Linked DNA regions of Homo sapiens: region 1 is linked to region 2. Evidence: fine-mapped expression QTL. A gene starts in region 2. The other region holds a variant in brackets. All regions are shown on one strand. Distances are from middle to middle.

Region 1 (5,374 bases), 64 kb after region 2:
TACTTTTGCTTGTTTTTCAGTTTCCCCAACACACAGCAGATACCTGGTGAGCTCAGATAGTCTCTTTCTCTGACACTGTGTAAGAAGCTGTGAATATTCCTAACTTACCCAGATGTTGCTTTTGAAAAGTTGAAATGTGTAATTGTTTTGGAATAAAGAGGGTAACAATAGGAACAAAGGCCTGATTGAGAGCTTATTCTCATACTTTTGGGTGGTGGGGTCCTTGGGTATATGACATGAGGACTTAGTTGGAAATGCTGTTGATGCCAGCATATTTCTCCAGGCCTTTCTTGGTCCTTCTTGCCCCTTGCTCCTAACAGAACTGAGAACTGCCTGGAAAGGCCAGCTTCCTTTTTTCTTCTCCAGCAGTGAGCACCAGCTGTCTGCATAGGAGCCCTGTTGGTATCTGAAGGCCCCATTTGGACCTCTAGGGGTCCAAGGGGATAGGTTTTTATCCCCTTTAACATTTTCTGTGAGCTGAGTCCCATTTTTGAGAATCTTTCTGTGTTAGGTTAGATACTGAGTGTGACTTGGCAAGAACACAGCTAAACAACAGGAATGTGCAGGTGGACTGCAGCTAGGACCTCTGCTCAAGGCTCTTGTCTTGGGGCCAGGCATGGAGGCTCACGTCCGTAATCCCAGCACTTTGGAAGGCCGAGGCAGGGGGATCACTTGAAGTCAGGAGTTTTGAGACCAGCCTGGCCAACATGGTGAAACCCTGTCTCTACTAAAAAACCAAAATTAGCCAAGGGGTGGGCATGGTGGTGCATGCCTGTAATCCCAGCTACTTGGGAGGCTGAGGCAGGAGAACAGCTTGAACTTGGGAGGCGGAGGTTGCGGTGAGCCATTGCACTCCAGCCTGGGCCACAGAGCCAGACTCCATCTCCAAAAAAAAAAAAAAAAAAAAAGACTTGCATGGAGATTTGTTGCAACATGAATTTTCAAGGGACACAAATTCAAACCATAGCACTGACCACTTGAGTGACTTTAGTCTAGAAGGCCACATCTCAAGAATGCCCCCTCTGAAGTTGTGCCCATTACATGAGGTTATATAATAGCACAGAGAGAAGTAATACTGCATAGCATGGTTGACTGCGTAGACTTTGGTTCCAGGCAAACCTAGTGTTGCCACTTACTAGGGTGAGGGACCTTGGGCAAGTAGTTTAACCTCCGTAAACCTCCTTTTGTGTTTCTGTAAAAGAGAGATGATAACTACCTACCTCATAGGATTAAAGGAGTTGAATGCTGACGCAGCTTAGCACTTGGCATCTTTCCTGATTGACCTACGGTTATGTGCCTTGGCCCATTGCCTCTAGTTCTAGAATGGCAAAAACTGCAATTACTTTTGCACCAACCTAATATTAATTGAAACATAATAAGTTTAGTTAACTTGTGAAATATGGTAATCCTCATAGTATTTATTGAATTGGGGGTCTGGAAGTTGTTTTATTTTAATCAGATTGCTTCCCAACTAGCTGGACCTTACTACAGTGAAGAAATTGGGATTTTGATTGGGAAAAAGGGAAAGAAGATTCTAGAACTCTATGCCGTTCTGAATGGGATCCTATAGGTAAGAGGATGATGTGGGCAGTTACAGGGATGCCTCTAAGATGGGAAGGAGGCTTCTCCTTCCCAGAGGTTGCAAACTTGTGATCTGTAGTGTTTTTTTAAAAATTGAGTAAGTTGCCAACATTTGAAGACAGATTTTATATAAAAATCTTGGTTTTGGATTCTGGATTCTCCTGAAAGAGAAAACTAGAGCTGTCCACGGCGGGCCTGATTCCTGAACGGCAGCAGTCAGCTGACACTGAATAGCAGCTCGTCCCTTTGGATGGAGCCTGCAAGCTCCAGCTTGTCAGCCCCTCCCCGCACAGGTGTCCACATACAGGACACTTGCGCCAGTCCACCTGGCGACTGTGCTTCTCTGATACCTGCCTGGCTCCCATAGGCATATACCTTTGGGATCCTCCACTTTTTAGTTTCTTATCCCACTCGGAGGGGAAGGGGTGATGGTGGTTTCCTGTTGCTCTTGGGCGGCTCCTAGTGTTCCTACTTAGGTGTGCTGGGACCTCAGCCGCTCAGACTGGAGAGGAAAGAGAGCCCCAGCAGCGTGTGGGATGAGAGCAGGGACACTTGCCACCTATCACCAGACCTGTGCGGGCCTGGAAGACAGACTGGGTGCGGGGCTGGTGGACAGTGGTGTGGAGCAGGGGTAGTAGGGCCTGAGGGTGGAAGTACAAAGGCTGCTGGGTGTCCTGGTCACTGGGAACAAAGGACAGCCAGTGGCTGGAAGGAAGGAAGTCGGGAAACAGCTTTTTGGAGAAACGGCTGGCACAGCTAAGTAAGGGGTTCCCGGGCTGGTTTGGGGCTGGCCTGCAGACTCAGATGGGAGCTGGAGAACAGAGCCCAGTAAACATTGCCATGTGCCAGGCTGTGTTCTGTGTCCAGAGCTACCACAGGGAGCAAGACAGATCCAGTCCCTTCCCTTGGTCCAGGTACAGCCCACGGGCACCCAGCTGAGGGAGAAAGGAAGCAGTGATCACACATGTGAGAAGGGCCTCAGAGGAAGCAGTTCTTACCTTGATGGCTTGGGAGGTCTCAGCTGAGACCTGAAGAATGAGAAGGCGCCTATGCCAAGCTGAGGAAGAGCACTCCGGCCAGAGAATCAGCCAGCATGGAGGCTCTGGGGCAAGAGCACGGCACATTCTGACTGGAAGCAGGCCAAGCAGCCAGGGTGTCACTGGCAGGAACGGCATCCTCGCTGGGATAGAAGCCAGAACAAACTTGGCTTTTAGGGGCTGTGGTAAAGGGGACTGATTTTTCTCTTAGGACCTTTTTTAAAACAAAACAAACAAAGAGATGGGGTCTTGCTATGTTGCCCAGGCTGACCTTGAACTCAAGGGATCCTCTTGCCTCAGCCTCCTGAGTAGCTGGGACTACAAGCATGCACCATCACGCCTGGCCAGCCTGAGTTTTATTTT[G/A]GGGTATAGCAGAGGCAGATGCTGTCTGTCTGACCCTGCCCACTGGGCAAAGCCTTTTTTTTTATTTTTTATTTTTTATTTTATTTGAGACAGGGTCTTGCTCTGTTGCTCAGGCCAGAATGCAGTGGTGCAATCACGACTCACTGCAGCCTCAACCTCCCAGGCTCAGGTGATCCCCCCACCTCAGCCTCTGGAGTAGCTGGGACTACAGGCGCGTGCCACCACACTGGGCTAATTTTTGTATTTTTGGTAGAGATGGGATTTTGCAATGTTGCCCAGGCTGGTCTCATACTCCTGAGCACAAGCAATCTCCCCGACCTCCCAAGGTTCTAGGATTACAGGCAGGAGCCACTGCACCTGGCCTCAAAGCCTCTTAAAGGGACTCGGCTCTCAGTGCTGGAGCAGTGCTGCAGGGGAATAACCTGGTTGCTATAGCCAAGACAGTCTGGGAGTCCAGAGCTGACAGCAGGCCTCTCTCTTATAATTCATGAAATCCACTGGATTCATCACTCAAATGATTCGCTGCAGTAGCGCCTGGGCCTGGCCTTCTCTGAGGAGTACAAGACATGCCAGCTTTAGAGTCAGAGCTGCTTCGAGTTCCCCCATTAGCTGTGTGTCCTTTTGTACCTTTACCTCTCTGGGCCTTGGTTTCCCATCAGTAAAAATGGGGATCATACCTCTGAGGGTTTTATAGGGATTAGAGGAGGCCACAGCCACAACACATACCACAGTGCCTGACACTTAGCATTGAGTCAGTGTTTGCTCCCAATAGCGCAGATATTGTCATCATTATTATTTCCCAGGTGGTGTTAACAGGAGCCCAGTCAACAGTTTGTACCAGGTCTACATTCACCTGTTAGTTCAAGTTACTCGACACCCCAGCTCCCTCATTTCCTCCCCAGCATTTCCTGAGGGGCCTGGAGTCTTAAAGCAACCTTTTCGAGAGAGTGTTGCCTTCCCTCCCCGCCCCATCAGTCCCGTCCTGCCAACCTGGAGCGACTCTAGTTGAATCTGACCTCTAGTTGGATCCAGCTGGGCCAATGTGCCCTGCCCTGCCTTCCTCAGGGGCCTGTTGTAGAGAACAAATGAAGTAATGGATGGGAAGCCTCTTTGTGAACTCTAAGTTAATACAAACAGAAGAGATTATCATTAAAAGCGACAAGTCCCCCGTTGATTAGAGCATTTCTTTAGGGAGAAAAATAGCACTCCGTCTTAAGTAGGACCCTCCCCGGAGTGGGAAGCTCCCAGCTCCTCTGCGGGGCAAGTGGAGTCTCTCCGACGCCATTCGTGCCGTGGTTAATGGTATGGAGCACTGGAGTTGTTGCTATGGTGGTTTTTCCCCTATAATTGCATTCACCTCCAAAACCACAAGTAGCAGCAGGTCCCAGCAGTCGTTATTTTATTTGAAAAACTAATTGGAAGTTGAAAGAGCCCTCGGCTTTTGCTTTTGTCAGGATAGGCCAAGGAAAGAGATGAGCAGGTGGGTCTGGGAGGAAGGAGGGGGTCTTGGGGCAGGCCGGGCGCGCCTCCCATTCACAGCCCCTTCCTTTGTGCCTGCCTCTCTTGGTTGAAGTGGGCCACCTGCCCTCTAAGGCCAGCCTTTTCCTCCGAGGGGGCTTTTGTCTCCCATTGTTCTGATTGTCTCCTCCGTGGAGCCGCCTCAGTGGCCCCCTGCAGACGGTTTCCCAGGCTTCACGTTTTTTTTCTCAGGCGCCCAGGGAGAGCAGGTGGTCTTTACCCTGGAAGGAACTGAGTTGGTTATATAGTTCTGGTGCTGGGAGACCAGAGACCTGGCTGCCAGGCCCTTCGAGCTTGGGTCATTCCTTCCCTGACGACACTGTCTTAGGCTACAAAATGGAGAGGTGGGATTGTTCACTCCATCAATGTTAAGATGCTGTGATTCTTTTCGCACTTTTTTTTTTTTTTTTTTGAGACAGAGTCTTGCTCGGTCACCCAGGCTGGAGTACAGTGGCGTCATCTTGGCTCACTGCAACCTCCACCTCCTGGGTTCACGTTGATTCTCTTGCCTCAGCCTCCCTAGTAGCTGGGATTACAGGCCCATGCCACCACACCCAGCCAATGTTTGTATTTTTAGTAGAGGTGGGGTTTCACCATGTTACCCAGGCTTCTCTCAAACTCCTGACCTCAAATGATCCGCCCGCCTCGGCCTCCCAAAGTGCTGGGATTACAGACTTGAGCCACTGCACCTGGCCCCTCTTTTTGCACTTTTTAAATCAAAACAGACATCCCATCATCTAGACTTTTCACAGTTGTCAGGTTTTTTTTAGGTTTAATTTACGTACAGCAAAATGCACAGATCCTAAGTGAACAACCCAATGATTTTTTATATGTGACAACACTGGTATAACCACCACCCAAATTGAAATATAGAA
Region 2 (5,307 bases):
CTATTGTTGGTCTTTTTCTTTTTCATTAGTCAGGTGTGGTGGCTCCCATCTGTGGTCCACAGCTAGTCACTAGGACCACAGATGCGAGCCACCACACCTGGCTAATCAAAATTTTTTTTTTGTAGAGGCAGGTCTTGCTGTGTTGCCCAGGTGGGTCTCGAATTCCTGGACTCAAGTGATCCTCCTACCTCAGCCTCCCAAAAGCTCTGGGATTACAGACTGAGCCACCATTCCTGGCTGCATATGCTAAGTCTGTGGTGTAAATACTCCCATCATGGCCAAAATCAAGCTACCAATACTACCTTGGGAAGAGATGTTCAATGGCATACTGTCATATATTTCCACCACACAGTTACAACAGATATAAGCAACCACAAAAGCACACAAAACGTAAAATGTAGTGAAATAATTAGAAAATAATGAGTTTTGTTTTCAATATACTTTATTTCATCCTAAATTGATATAATTTTCTAAATGGCTGTATTTAACCAATTTGCAAAATTACTGCAAATTTAACAATGGACTCTCAAGATAGTATGAGACAGCTCCAGCACACCACTGGTTGGTTGTCTTATTCTTGAGCTGGGAGAATTCTTTATATATTCTACATCAGCACTGCCCAATGGAACTTTCTGCAATAATGAAGATGTCCTATAATTTTGAGTGGTCCAATCTGATATCCACTAGTTATCTGTGGCTACTGAGCACTTGAAATGTGGCTAGTACAAATGAGAGACTGAATTTTAAATTTTACTTAATTTTAATCCATTTAAATTCAAATTTAAATATCCACATAAGGCTAGTGGCTATCATAACAGACACAGAAAGAACTGACTCTCTCCCATGCGGGATAACATTTGGGACAATAATAACGTTAATAAGAGTTATATTGTGCATACTTTATATGTTCATAAAACTGTAGTTAAAAGCACAGATTCTGGAGTCAGCTGCCTAGGTTCAAATCTGTTTCCTTCTCTTTAAAATGGGATTAGCCTGTAATCTCAGCACTTTGGGAGGCTAAGGCCGAAGGATCCTTTGAGCCCGAGTTCCAGACCAGCCTGGGCAACAAAGCGAGACGCGGTATCTACCAAAAATAATTTTAAAGATTAGCTGGGCGTGGTGTCGCAAGGCAGCAGTCCCAGCTACTCCGGAGGCTGAGGCGGGAGGGAAGATTGCTTGAGCCCAGGATGTCGAGGCTGCAGTAAGCTGTGATCGCACCACTGCACTCCAGCCTGGGCGACAGAGCAAGATCCCGTATCAATAAAAAAGGAAAGAAAAGAAATAATGCTTGTAGAGCGTTCGGCACAGTGTCGGGTTATACTGTAAACATTCAGTAGTTGGCGCTAGTTATTAGAGCGGTGTTCCTGGATGAGCCACCTCCATGTTGAGCCTGTAAAACTGGCCTAATATGTTCTCTATGAGTCACTGCATTGCTCTGCAAATCAGATAAAACGTCACTCGTAGGTCAGTTATTAACAACCCCACTGATAATCTTTGGAAAAAACTGACATAATTTTCTTTTTCTTTTTTTTTTGGTGAGACGGAGATTTACTCGTTGCCCAGGCTGGAGTGCAATGGCGCGATCTTGGCTCACCGCATCCTCCGCCTCCCAGGTCCAAGCGATTCTCCTGCCTCAGGCTCCCGAGTAGCTGGGATTACAGGCATGTGTGACCACGCCCGGCTAATTTTGTATTTTTAGTAGAGACGGGGTTTCACCGTGTTGCCCAGGCTGATCTCGAACTCCTCACCTCAGGTAATCCGCCCGCCTCGGCCTCCCAAAGTTCTGGGATTACAGGCGTGAGCCACTGCGCCCGGCCAGAAACTGCCACAATTTTCTAAAGAGGAAAAAAAAATCCCTTCTAAGCTATCCCCTCCCGACGAGACCCTTCCTGTTCCTTTAAAATGGGCCGGGCAGCAGAAAGACGAGTGAGTGACAGCAGACAGGCCAATCAGAAGCGGCCCCGTCTCGGGCCCACCCCGAGGCCTGGCCCAACCGCGTCCCGGTAGCTCCCGGAATAGGAGCGTTGCGAGACGGTCGGTTCCAAGTGGGCCTGGGCGCGGGGGAGAGGCGGGTCTGTCCTCGGGAACTGCAAGGCCCTGTGAGCGGGAGGACTGGGATCCCGGCCGCGGCTGCTGGAAGCGTCGAAGCTCAGCGGGGCCGCGGACACTGACCTGTGCTTAGAACTCATCCTGGCCCGCAGAGCCTGCCGCGAGTCCCTGGCGTCCCCTGTGGCGGGCTCTTGGAGCCACTTTCCCGAGCGGAAGTCAGCCCGCGGCTCGGACTCCGGCGGGACCTGCTCGGAGGAATGGCGCCGCCGGGTGAGGAGTTGCGCGTGGCTTTGGGGAGAGGGCTGTCGCCCGCGGGAGGTTACTAGTCGCCGCTCGAGAGCCGGCCAGGCGGGATCCCCTTCCCCTGCGGGACAGGGGCATGGGCACAAGCTCTGGCTGGGGCGCTCTCGGATCGAGGGTCCGAAGGAGGGCTGCGAGCTGGTGGGAGTGCCCGCGACCTGGCGGGGTTGGTGCCTGGGGGAGGGGTGCAGCGCGGAGCTACGGGTCGCCCCGAGGCTCAGCCGTGGGGACCGCGGACGCGCTTAGCCTAGGTCTGGCCTCATTCATTTCACTCGCGCGGGCTTCTGGGCCAGGCGGCCTAAGGTTCTGGTCCCGGCGCTGCCCCTTACTCCGTGTGAGGTTTTGGGCAGATTGTCCTTCTTTGTGCTGTAGTTTCCCATTCAGTGAAAGGGGCAAAGAAAACCCTCACTTCTCTCTGGGAGCCTGGAGCATAAGTTCTCAAGTGACACTCTAGGTGCAAACTTGCAGTCGGCCACGTATTCATTGTGTAACCCAAAGCAGGTTACTTAACCCCTCTACACCTCAGTTTCTCATCTGTAAAATAAGTTAGTCAAATTAGTCACGTTATCTGCCTCGTTGAGTTGCTTTATTAAGTGAAATAATCTTCGTGCTTAGTTTAGAACAGTGCATGGCCCTAGGTAAGAACTAAGTTAACTGCATTGGAAGTTACTGAGTAGACGCTGTGCAGGGTGGAATTTCATGTAGCCTCATCGTAACTTTGGAAGCATGTACTCTTGTTACTACCATTTGACAGATGAGAAGTTGGAATCCCACGGAAGGGAACTTACTTGCCCAGGGTGACACATGAATGAGTCAGTGGCTCACCGTTTCATTATTTGAGAAGTTCAGGATAGTAAAGTGGTTAAAAGCAGACTTTGGATTCAAATTGCCTGAAGTTTGATTTTCAGTGATGTGTCCTAGGGCAGGTAACTACTTCTGAGCCTTACTTTCCTGGTCTGTGAAATGCAGAAAATAGCCACCTTGCTTAGATGTTGTGAGGATTTAATGATTTGGTGTGTGCAAAGCACAGCATAGCGTGGGCATACCTAACATATTAAGTGCTCAACTTTTAGTCAGAAAAGTTACTGCTCTCGTTAACATGGAGTGAGAAGATTAGGATTCTGACACAGGTGCTGTTTTAGGGGAATTTACGGTCTAGGTGGGAAAATGCTAGTCGCAGCCATTCACTAGATCTTCATATATTGGGTACCCGCCTGTGCACAAGGCATTGGGGATTCAGCATTAGTATCTTGACTCCGCTCTCTCTTAGGTCTTTCTGTCCATTAGCAGTTTCTGATAGGCTTTGACTTTGAATTCTAGCCAGACTAACTCTCATCACTTCTCATCATGTTCACTGCTGTTGCCCTGGTTTGGGCCACCATCATCTTCTGGCTTGGATTATGGCGGTAGTCTCCCAACTGGTGTCCCCTGCTCTGTCCTTGCACCTGCATGGTCTGTTCTCCACACAGTATTGTTTATTCTCAACACAGTAATACCATTAGAGTGTAAGTCAAATCACTCCTCTGCTTAGAACTTTCCAGTGGTCTCCAGCCGGGTGCGGTAGCTCACGCCTGTAATCCCAGCACTTTGGGAGGCTGAGGCGGGCGGATCACGAGGTCAAGAGATCAAGACCATCCTGGCCAACATGGTGAAACCCCGTCTCTACTAAAAAGACAAAAATTAGCTGGGCATGGTGGCACGTGCCTGTAGTCCTAGCTACTTGGGAGGCTGAGGCAGGAGAATCGCTTGAACCCGGGAGGCGGAGGCTGCAGTGAGCCGAGATCGCGCCACTGCACTCCAGCCTGGCAACAGAGCGAGACTCTGTCTAAAAAAAAAAAAAAGAACTTTCCAGTGGCTTCCACTACGGTGGTATACAAGGCCCTCTGGATTTGTCCTCTGCTACCTCTGTTACCTCATCTACTTCTTACCCTTTGCTTATTCCACTCAAGCTGTACTGTCCTTGCTGATCTCAAAAAACACTGTATGTGTACATACTCCTGATTCAGAATGTTTGCATTTGGTTTTTCTTTTCTTTTTTTTTTTTTTTTTTGAGACAGAGCCCCAGGCTGGAGTGCAGTGGCACGATCTCAGCTCACTGCCCACTCTGCTTCCCAGATCAAGTGATTCTCGTGCTTCAGCCTCCCTAGTAGCTGGGATTACAGGCCAAGTCACCATGTGCGGCTCATGTTTTGTATTTTTAGTAGACATGGGGTTTCACCATGTTGGCCAGGTTTGTCTTGAACTCCCGACCTCAGGTGATCCCCCTGCCTTGGCCTCCCAAAGTGCTGGGGTTAGAGGTGTGAGCCACTGCGCCTGGCCATATTGGGTTTTTCTTCTTAGCATAGTTTCCCACCAGATATCTTTATGACTTGCTTCTTCTTCAGATCTGTACTCAATATGTTTATTTCTTAGTCCTTCATAGACTACCGTATTTAAAATGCAGCCCTTCCCAAATATCTCTTCTGTACTTTATTTTTTTCCATAGCACTTACTTTGTAATGTGATAAATAATGTTATTTCATGTGATGTCTTTTGTCACTAGAATAGAAGCTCTTTGAGGGTGGGAGTTTTGTTTCTTTTGTTTCCTGCTGTATTTTTAACACCTAAAGTAGTGTGTGGCACATAGTAGCTCAGTATACATTTGATGAATACACCACGTGATAGATTTTTTCTTTTTTTAATTTAATTTTATTTATTTATTTTTATTTTTTTGAGATGGAGTCTCACTCTGTCACCCAGGCTGGAGTGCAGTGGTGCGATCTCGGCTCACTGCAACTTCCGCCTCCTGGGTTTAAGTGATTCTCCTGCCTCAGCCTCCCAAGTAGTTTGGATTACAGGCACCCACCATCACACCTGGCTAATTTTTGTCTTTTTAGTAGAGACAGGGTTTCACCATGTTGGCCAGGCTGGTCTTGAACTCCTGACTTCAAGTGATCCGCCCACCTCGGCCTCCCAAAG

Which allele goes with the higher level. Alleles are on the strand shown, and positions count from the first base shown. SD is a standard deviation of normalised expression in the study named.
With allele A in place of G in region 1, the expression in spleen of the gene that starts at base 2,498 in region 2 is lower (moderate effect, 0.69 SD a copy in GTEx).

Evidence for each region. PIP is the estimated chance that this variant, and not a neighbour inherited with it, causes the effect.
Region 1: its variant is the best candidate, but not a certain one, in a credible set for the expression of MROH8 in spleen (GTEx, PIP 0.59).

Annotation. Positions count from the first base shown.
Region 1 is chr20:37,241,446-37,246,819 of GRCh38, forward strand. It overlaps RPN2 (ribophorin II), which reads left to right. Exons shown (of 17, transcript NM_002951.5): 17 at 1-174. Among named protein-coding and RNA genes, the nearest start is that of GHRH, 18 kb to the right of the region's middle. The variant G/A (reference allele first, on the strand shown) is at 2,982.
Region 2 is chr20:37,177,051-37,182,357 of GRCh38, forward strand. It overlaps MROH8 (maestro heat like repeat family member 8), which reads right to left and starts at 2,498. Exons shown (of 25, transcript NM_152503.8): 1 at 2,339-2,498; 2 at 2,173-2,337. The coding sequence starts at 2,430. RPN2 (ribophorin II) reads left to right here and starts at 2,280. Exons shown (of 17, transcript NM_002951.5): 1 at 2,280-2,319. The coding sequence starts at 2,307. RefSeq lists enhancers at 1,838-2,397, 1,906-1,985, 2,336-2,385, 2,398-2,955 and a silencer at 2,506-2,555.